Regions from separate parts of the Homo sapiens genome. Here region 1 is linked to region 2. The links come from fine-mapping of genetic effects on gene expression. A gene starts in region 2. The other region holds a variant in brackets. All regions are shown on one strand. Distances are from middle to middle.

Region 1 (4,402 bases), 30 kb before region 2:
AAAAACTACATGAGAAGGAACATAAGAGTAAATAAAACTTTTTAATGACAAGAGAAATAGAAAGTGAAAAGGAAAAAAACAAAAAAATCAAAAAGGACCAAAAAATGTTTAAGAAAACATACACAAAAAAACCAACATACATATAACAAAGAAAATCAAAGCAAGGGAACAGAATATTAAAAATCATTTAATTCAAGAAAACTTTCCTGAACTTCATTTAAACATAAAACTACATTTTGAAAGGTCATATCACATACATTTGAAAAATCAACCCAGAATGACCATCACCAAGATATAATTTAGTTAACTTAATAGTAAATGAAAATACTTTTTGAGCATCTGCAGATATTTTATAAGGAAAATAAAATCAAATTGTCATCACTTTAACAGCAACATTTTATGCCAGGGGAAAAAAAGTAACATATTTAAGACTCTAAGAAAGGAAACATGAACCAAAGATTTTATACCCAGCTAAATTTCGAGTATAAAGACTGCTAAGTGTTATCAATATAGAAAACAGCAATAAGAATCTACTAGAGAAGAAGCCCAGTAGAAGGGGTCTGCCACTCCCATAGCAATATCCAAAATGACTAAAGAAATGTCAATATCAGTGAGCAGTAAATATATACTTGTAGAACTGAGACTCAACAAGGGTTATAAAAGAGAGAAAAGAGTATATAATGGGCAAATGTACTGACACTGTAGATATAGTACAACTATCAAAAAATGGGATAACATACGCAAAAAAGGCAACTTTCCAGAAATCATATTGTGATACTTGATTTTGTTAACTAAGACTGTTGTGTGCATACATGTGGAATGATGCAAATGAGTAATTATGTGATATTATTATTCTATCATTCTCTTGTGTCCCTGAACATCAGGATTCAGATATGGAAGAAAGAGACAGAGATAAAAGATAGAATAGGTAAAGGTAAAAATGCTGTACTTGGAAATATTTTTAGTTCAGAATGTATCTTTAAAATAAACACATACACAGAAACACATCTTTGTATTTCCTAGCCCCATTCACTAAAAAGCTTAGAAACAATAATCAACCCAGCAGCAAAGAGCATCCCTAGCAAACAAATTGTAGTCTTAAAATACCACTTCCCATGAAAAGAAACCAGGTTCCTTAACAAAATGATTATTGCTCCTATAATTAATATTCACCAAGGGATCAAAACTGGAAATCCTCTCATACTCAATGAGCATGCCCAGTCCATTCCCACTTCCCTCTCAAAAAAAAAAAAAAAAATTAAAAGAAAACACTCCTAAGCAAAATCTGTACTTTATTTCCTGTAAACTATGAGTAACCTCGGCTCATTTTTCTTTTGAATTATTAGTCTTGCTTTTTATTTCCAGGCACATCTTATATGTTGTATATTAAACAGAGTAGCTCTGTGTCTTGCGCATAAACGTTAAGAAGTCACTGAAATATACTCAGCTGCTCTGCAAGAGGCCACTATGACAGAAATATTTCTTTAAAATGTATCTAAATGAAACTCCCTCCTGTGGCTTCTAATGGAAAAAGATGTGGAGGATTCCCTCTTGCTCTTGCTGGCCCCTATAATCTCAGGTGGCCTCAGGCAACCAAAGGCCCTGTCAATCCTTAGGGCCTGCTTCAGCCAGGTATAAGCAGGGCCAATGGCAGTGTACTAATAAATACTTGTTCAATACTTATCTTTTAGCATCTTGAGAAACACAAAAGACTTAAATACAGCTGGTATACCACATACTCATATAGAGCTATTTAACACAACCTTCCTAGAAAAAAAAAAATTATACTTGGTGGCAGTTATAATTTTTTTAGTGTGCTGCTGAATTCTATTTGCTAATATTTTATTTAGGAACAAGACTGATATTTAGACGAGATCGGGCACACTCAGGGTGGTATAGCCATAGACAAGACTGATATTCATAAGAATGGTCTGTAGTTTATTTTTTCTGCTACATTTATCTGTTTAAGTATCAATATTATGCTCACTTCATAATAAGATTTTGGAAGCTTTTCTTCCTTTACCACAATCTAAGGAGTTTAAGCAGCATTTGATCTATTCCTTAAGGTTTTGAAGACTTCA[A/G]CTGCAAAAGTCTGACACTACAAAGTGTTGGTAAGGAGTTGGAACAAACAGAACTCTCCTACACTGTATACTGTTTCGATCATTTTGAAAATTCATTTGGCAGTACCTGCTAACCGACCCAGCAATTCAACTTCTATGCATGTACATGTCCACCCAAAGACATGTACAAGAATGATAACAGCTTTATTCACAACAGCCACAAACTGGAAACCTGTATGTCCAACAACAGGAAAATGAATATAGTAAGACGGATGGACATACCAAACACTGTGTTAAGAAAAAGCAGCACCAGACAGAAGAGTACATACTATATTCCATTTACATGAATTTCAATAATAAAACAAATCAATGGTGATACAAGTCAAACAGCAGATATCACTTTGGGGACTAAGGGTCAGAAGAAATGGCTGGAGGTGGATGGTTCCTAGGGATCTGGTAGCATTCTATATCCCAATCTTGGTGTTTAAACAATTGGTTCATGTTATAGAAAGTAATCAAGAAGTATACTTATTATTTCATCCTGTTTATTTATGTAAAATTAACACAGTAAGTAAGGTACACAAATCACAAGTGTGTGATAACAGTCAGTGTCCATTCAGGAGCTAGAAAACAAACAATCAATTAAAACAAGAAAATGTAACATAAATAAAAAATTATTAATTTGTAAAAAGTTGTCAAGTGCTAATAGATGTAAAAGACAATTTGAAGGAATATGGAACTAGCAAATATAGGGAGCAGTTACTGTCTCCAAGGCTAAGGGAGAGTGCCCAAGAAAGGAACACTTCACTGGACAGACTGTGGCAGTGACCCACTGAGCGGTAGGGTAGTTCTCTGTAGGGCCAGTGAGCTACAGCTTATCCACAGGAATCTGCTGCCCACGAGATACTGGTGGGAGCAAGAAGCTGCCTACCAGGGTGCTAATGAAGCTTACAGGAGAGTAAGTAGAGCTGACAGCCACACCTTAAGAGATTAAGAAAAACAAACAAACGAACAAAAAAACAAGCACATGGCAACAAGAGAAGCACTTTCTCTGCTAAGTCTTGCAGTATCCCTTCCTCACCTTCTACTGACAAAATCTAACACTGTCCAGGAAAAGAAAAAATATTTAAAAGGTCTGGCTCGAGTATATAAATAGAGCAAAAAGGGGTGAATTTGGAGTTGAGAGGCAATAAATTACTAACTTGCACAAAGTAAACTGACAAAATTTTACAAACGTACATACACTTGTGCGACCACCAGACAGAACATTTTCATCACACCATAAAGTTCCCTAGTGCCCCTGCCTGCCAACACCTATTCCTGTTCTCCCAGACAAAGGCTTATTAATGTGCCTCTCAGGGTGTGCCCCTTTCTTTAGAGAACACAGTTCTGCCAGCTTTCCTGACATCTGTGTCTCAGGTTCCCTTTCAGCATCCTCCCATACCCTGTTTGACCTTCACTGAATTTGGCAGCTCCTTATTTTCTAGTTCAGGGCTACAGAAGCTTCTCAGTTTCTCAGAATATGAAATCACTGTTTCTCAATCTCCTTGTTGCTTTTCAGGCAATTTCTTAAAAGAGGAATTATTTAAAACCAGAAGTCCCTGCTCAAAGAAATAAAATAATCACAAGTATTTGCTTCAGTAAGTTAGTGAGTTTTCTGAAGAACTTAAAATACTAATTAGAATTAAACAATCACTTTAGTACATTATAGGTTTCTTCTAATAATGAAACCGATGCTTGCATTAAGGTTTCTATTAATGAATATACCGAAAGGCACAAACTTTAACAAAATTAAATCTTTCCACATAATTTCAGCCCCTCTGACTCTATGCAAGTCTACTTTTATAGTAGCCAATGCAACAGAGAGGTTTCAAAGAAAAAAAAGTTTAGCATTACATAATCTGACCACTTCTTTTCCTCTGATATTAAATGAAATGCAGATGCAACTGAAAAGCACATCAAGATGCAAATCAATACTGCCCTTTGCTGAAATCACTCATTGGTATATTCCATATTAGCATATTCACCAAAATTTAATTGTAAACAGAGTAATTATGGTACTAAAGTTATTAAATACACAAAGCAAGCTTGGAACTATACATATTCAAATAGAATTTCAGTGGCAGATCAACTTTTATATCTGCAACAATACCCTAATTAATAGTCAGCTCTGATGATAAAATGGTCCTCTGTTTTTCAGATAACATTCCAAAAAAAGTTCTGCTATGAATATTAAAATAAAGTTTTGTGAATAGATTTTTAAAAATTTCAATAGCTATATTTATCACAATATGGTACTGTATTTAGACAACTGGCATTCTTCAAGTCCTGGATTCAAATTT
Region 2 (4,402 bases):
ATTCTGTGCTGGATGCTAGATAAAGTTAAAAAAAAAAAAAAAAAGACGTACACTAATTTAAAACAAAGAAAACTTGCTTCAGCAAAACACTACAATAGCAATAGACTTTGCACCTAGCACAATTCCTTGTAAATAGGGGGCACGTGATCTCTGCTGAATAAATGAGTCCATTTCTCCTTACTCCGAAAAATAACCCTGGCAAGCATGTAAAATATCCTACCAGTCTGAAAAATATTCTCCAGTCCTATTCAGCTACCAATCCATTCTCAGAACCCATCAAGAGCAATTTTCATGAAAGCCTCACTCACACGCACAAAGAGGCAGCATTTAATTCCCATTAGGCTCACTGCCTGATCTACGGAGATATAAGCATTTGCACATTTGCATAAATTCAGGAGACATCCTTCATTTGATATAAGGTAAATCTTAAAGCTTCGCTTCATTTCCAAATAAGTTTTATTTTTCAAATCAAAAATATTTTTAAAGTTTTATTTTTCAAATCATAATCCTAATCATAGTACATTATATCTTATTAGGGATGCTTTTAAGAAAAAAAAATATAGCTGTCAAAATTAAAATCTTGTTTTTTCATTTCTAGACATCTGGGACATTTCACTTATATATTTATTATTATTTCACATTAGTTCTCAAAGTTAAAAAAAAAAGCTGGCCTATTTCCTTTAAGAAATTTAATTTTAGGGTCTGTCAACATTTTGAATGCATTACTGTTATTTTTAAAATACACACTTGCATACTGGAATAAAACTTAGCATAAGCTTTCCATATAACCATTTCCTGGGCACTTACTAACTTACTATATGCCAGGCTCTATGCTTAACACATTACTCCATTATCTCATTTGTTTAACAAATATCCTCTCATAATTTTTGCAGCACTGAACATAACAAGAAGACATTGCACTATAAAACTGGTATTTGTACTGGATACCAGAACTAAATTGACAGTAACGCCTAACACAAGTTTATTGTTATTAAATTCAAGTTGTGTTACTGTATTAACACAGAATCTGATCAGCAATGTTGAGATGTAGAGAATACCATCTGTGGTAGCATCAACAGAGAAAGCTATTATTAAGTGACTACTTAAGTTACATTCCCTTCTATAGGTAACAGATGAACATAATCTTATCTACCCAGAAATTTAATTCCAATCACTACATGCCATTTTGAAGAACATAAACGTAACCTACATAAAATGACTATATAAAGAACCCTTGCTTCCTTCTGAAAATGCTTCAAAATTCTAGATTAAATTCTCCCCCAAAGTATCATGCTCAGCATGTCATAAAGAAAGGTGCCTTTATTGTCAACTCTTGAAAATAAATGCTGCCCTACTTTTTTTTACTCTTGAATTTCAGTCTCAACAGATGGGCAATTCCAGTTTAAAAAAAAAGAAGAAGAAAAGAAAAACACACACACAATAATTAATGAAGTTCTTCAACAGTTCCCTAAAACCAACATCCTCCCAATAGCAAATTGTATTTCCAAGTTGTTCCAAGAAAGGGACACAGGAAAGGGAAGGGAAGAGTCTATACAAAGGAAAACAAAAATGAGTGACTTGAAAGAAAGGACATCAGAAAAATGGGTGGCCTCAACAGGAACCTATAGTGTCTGACTCTGCTGCTGTCTGTCGAATTTAATTCTACCACCTAAGAGTTTTGAGACGAGAACCACAATACTATTTCGGTGGTAGGAAAAACTATGCGTTGCCCCTGAATGGAGCTGCAACAGTAAAGGATGCCACCCTGCCAGGTAAGGACAGAATGAGGAGGAACTGTCAAACGGTTATGAAAGTCCCTTGCAAAACACACAAGCGGCTCTAACTGCCTTGCACCAGACAGACCCTCAAGTACAGGATCACGGGGCCTCCCCGCGATGTGACAGGGAAATAACGGGCGGCCTCGCGGTCCCCAGGCCTGGCTGCTATCCTCAGGGGTCGGCCTCCCCTCTCAGGTCTCAAGTCAAAGGTCACATCCTCTGAGATGCCCTCCCGGATCACCTAACCTAAAGAGCCTCGCCCCCATTCCTCTAGCCCGCAACTGCCTGTCCCGTTTCTAAGAAAGCATTTCCGTATCCGCAAAACATCGCAGCTGCGTGTGTTGTTTCCCTTCTACAGAGTGAGCTCTGCGGGGCAGGGGCCTCGCCTGCGCTGTTCACCCGGAGCCCCGCCTGACAGAACCGGCTTCCCGGTGAGGCCCGAGGCGGCGTTTGCGAGCTCGGCCGCGACACCACGCGCGTCCAGAACGTGGAGCTCAGATGGGGGCCGGCCTGGCCAGTCCAGGCATCCCCGGGGGCGCCTGCGGGGCCTGAACGAGACAAGGAAGGAGCGGACGCCCGCGCAGGCGGAAGCCACGCGGCGGAGCGCGGTCCCGCGGGGCGACCGAGGCTGACGGCGACTCCCGCACCCCGGTGGACCCACAGGCCGCCCGGAAGGCCCAGTGCCGGCCCCAGCCCCGGCCGCCCGCCTCCGCGCCCCCGGCTCGGCGCGCGAGTCCTCGAGCCGTGTCGCCTGCGGCCTCCCTACCCTAAGCCGCAGACCCGTCGCGTTCTGCCCAGTACGAACTTCCCGCCGCTTTCGCCGACTCGTAACTCGGCAGCGGCGCCGGCCCCTTCGCACCCTGCAGTATGGAGCCTTCCCATTGGCTCGGAGGCGACGAGGAGGGGCGGGACGAGTGGTAACGCGAGGCGCGGGGCGGAGGCTACGCTAGCCCCGCGCCTCCCCGGGAATGCCGGGAGCTGTGGTCCAGCGCTCCCAAGGCATCCTGGGAGTTGGAGTCTCTTAGCGGCAAAGGGAGATCCCCGTCCTTCTGCTCCCTGGTCTTCTAGGAAATGTGGTTTACAGCCTTGTTCGTAGTAGCTTGATTTATTAAGTGTATTGGCAGAGAGTTGGGTGTAAAATAAGTTTCCTGTTTCTGTTAGGATTAAATGAAATAATCTATAGGCAGTACTTTAAACTTAGTTGGTGCTCAATAAATAGCAGATAGTGTTAGTATTATTCTGCCCACTCATTGATATGTGTCTAAATCCTACCTGTTTTTCGAAGCCTATTTCAAAGCATATCTCAATGTCTACCTAATCATCTATAGTGTTTCATCTGTAATCAACGTATGCCACAGTTTGCATTGTGTTTATTATTTATTTTTATTTATTTATTTTTTTGAGACGGAGTCTCACTCTGTCGCCCAGGCTGGAGTACAGTGGCACAGTCTCGGCTCACTGCAAGCTCCGTCTCCCGGGTTCACGCCATTCTCCTGCCTCAGCCTCCCGAGTAGCTGGGACTACAGGCGCTCGCCATCACGCCCAGCTAATTTTTTTCTGTTTTTAGTAGAGACGGGGTTTCACCGTGTTAGCCAGGATGGTCTCGATCTCCTGACCTTGTGATCCGCCCGCCTTGGCCTCGCCAAGTGCTGGGATTACAGGCGTGAGCCACCGCGCCCGGCCGCATTGTGTTTATTATAATCAGCTAAGTCTCCATCACCCATGAGGCTGAGAGCTTATTGGGCACTGGGTCATTGTTCTAGGTCAAAATCACTGAAGTCACAGGCAGAGGGAGATTAACAATGAAGCCAATGAAGCGTAAGCTTCAGGACCTCACTTGCGCAGGTCCCTCAATGAGTTTACATAGCTTTGGGGGTTTATTTGTCGATTTTACTTTTCTTTTTCTTTTTTTTAAAGATATAGTCTCACTTTGTCACCCAGGCTGCAATGCATTGGCGCGATCTCGGTTCACTGCAGCCACGACCTCCTGGGCTCAAGCAATCCTCCCACCTCAACCCTCCGAGTAGCTGGGATTACACGCACAGGCCACCACTTCTGGCTAATTTTTGTATTTTTTGTAGAGACAGGGTTTGACCATGTTGCCCAGGCTGGTCTTGAACTCCTGAGCTCAAACAATCCACCCCGCCTCAGCCTCCCAAAGTGCTAGAATTACAGGCATGAGCCACCACACCCAGCTGATTTTTCTTAAAGTAGATCCCCCAAAATTATGTGAGCTTCAGTCCCTACAAAACCTGGAATCACTCTGTCCATTAGACAGGGCAATATTGTGCCTGATGTCTTACATTTTCCCCTCCAGATACCCTCATCTGCTCCAAATACTTCTCCTGCCTGCCCTCTGCCCCAGGAGGCTGACCTCTACAAATTACTTCGCGCTCCCTGTGCCCCCTGGCTTTGGGGCGTGCCCAGTGGAGAACCCCACAGAAGATTGGAGGAAAAAGAAAGGTTGGTTAGAGTAGGTTAAGCCCCTGGATCCTGACTGGCAAGGTCACCTCCAGTTGGCAGGTCCCTCAGCTGAAGGTCACTGCTCCCTGGCCCTCCCTCCAGTTTGCGGTAGTAGCCCTTCCCTTTGTGCCTCAGGTCTGGAAGTGATGACATCACGGCTG

Alleles and levels. Alleles are on the strand shown, and positions count from the first base shown. SD is a standard deviation of normalised expression in the study named.
For the expression in testis of the gene that starts at base 2,610 in region 2, allele A in region 1 goes with a higher level than allele G (small effect, 0.28 SD a copy in GTEx).

Evidence for each region. PIP is the estimated chance that this variant, and not a neighbour inherited with it, causes the effect.
Region 1: its variant is fine-mapped to the expression of VRK1 in testis (GTEx, PIP 0.96). The same link has a PIP of 0.9 or more in thyroid.

Annotation. Positions count from the first base shown.
Region 1 is chr14:96,826,063-96,830,464 of GRCh38, reverse strand. All of the region lies in intron 1 of VRK1 (VRK serine/threonine kinase 1), which reads right to left. Among named protein-coding and RNA genes, the nearest start is that of VRK1, 31 kb to the right of the region's middle. The variant A/G (reference allele first, on the strand shown) is at 2,082.
Region 2 is chr14:96,795,590-96,799,991 of GRCh38, reverse strand. It overlaps VRK1 (VRK serine/threonine kinase 1), which reads right to left and starts at 2,610. Exons shown (of 13, transcript NM_003384.3): 1 at 2,545-2,610. RefSeq lists an enhancer at 1,753-2,284 and silencers at 2,229-2,518, 2,529-2,728.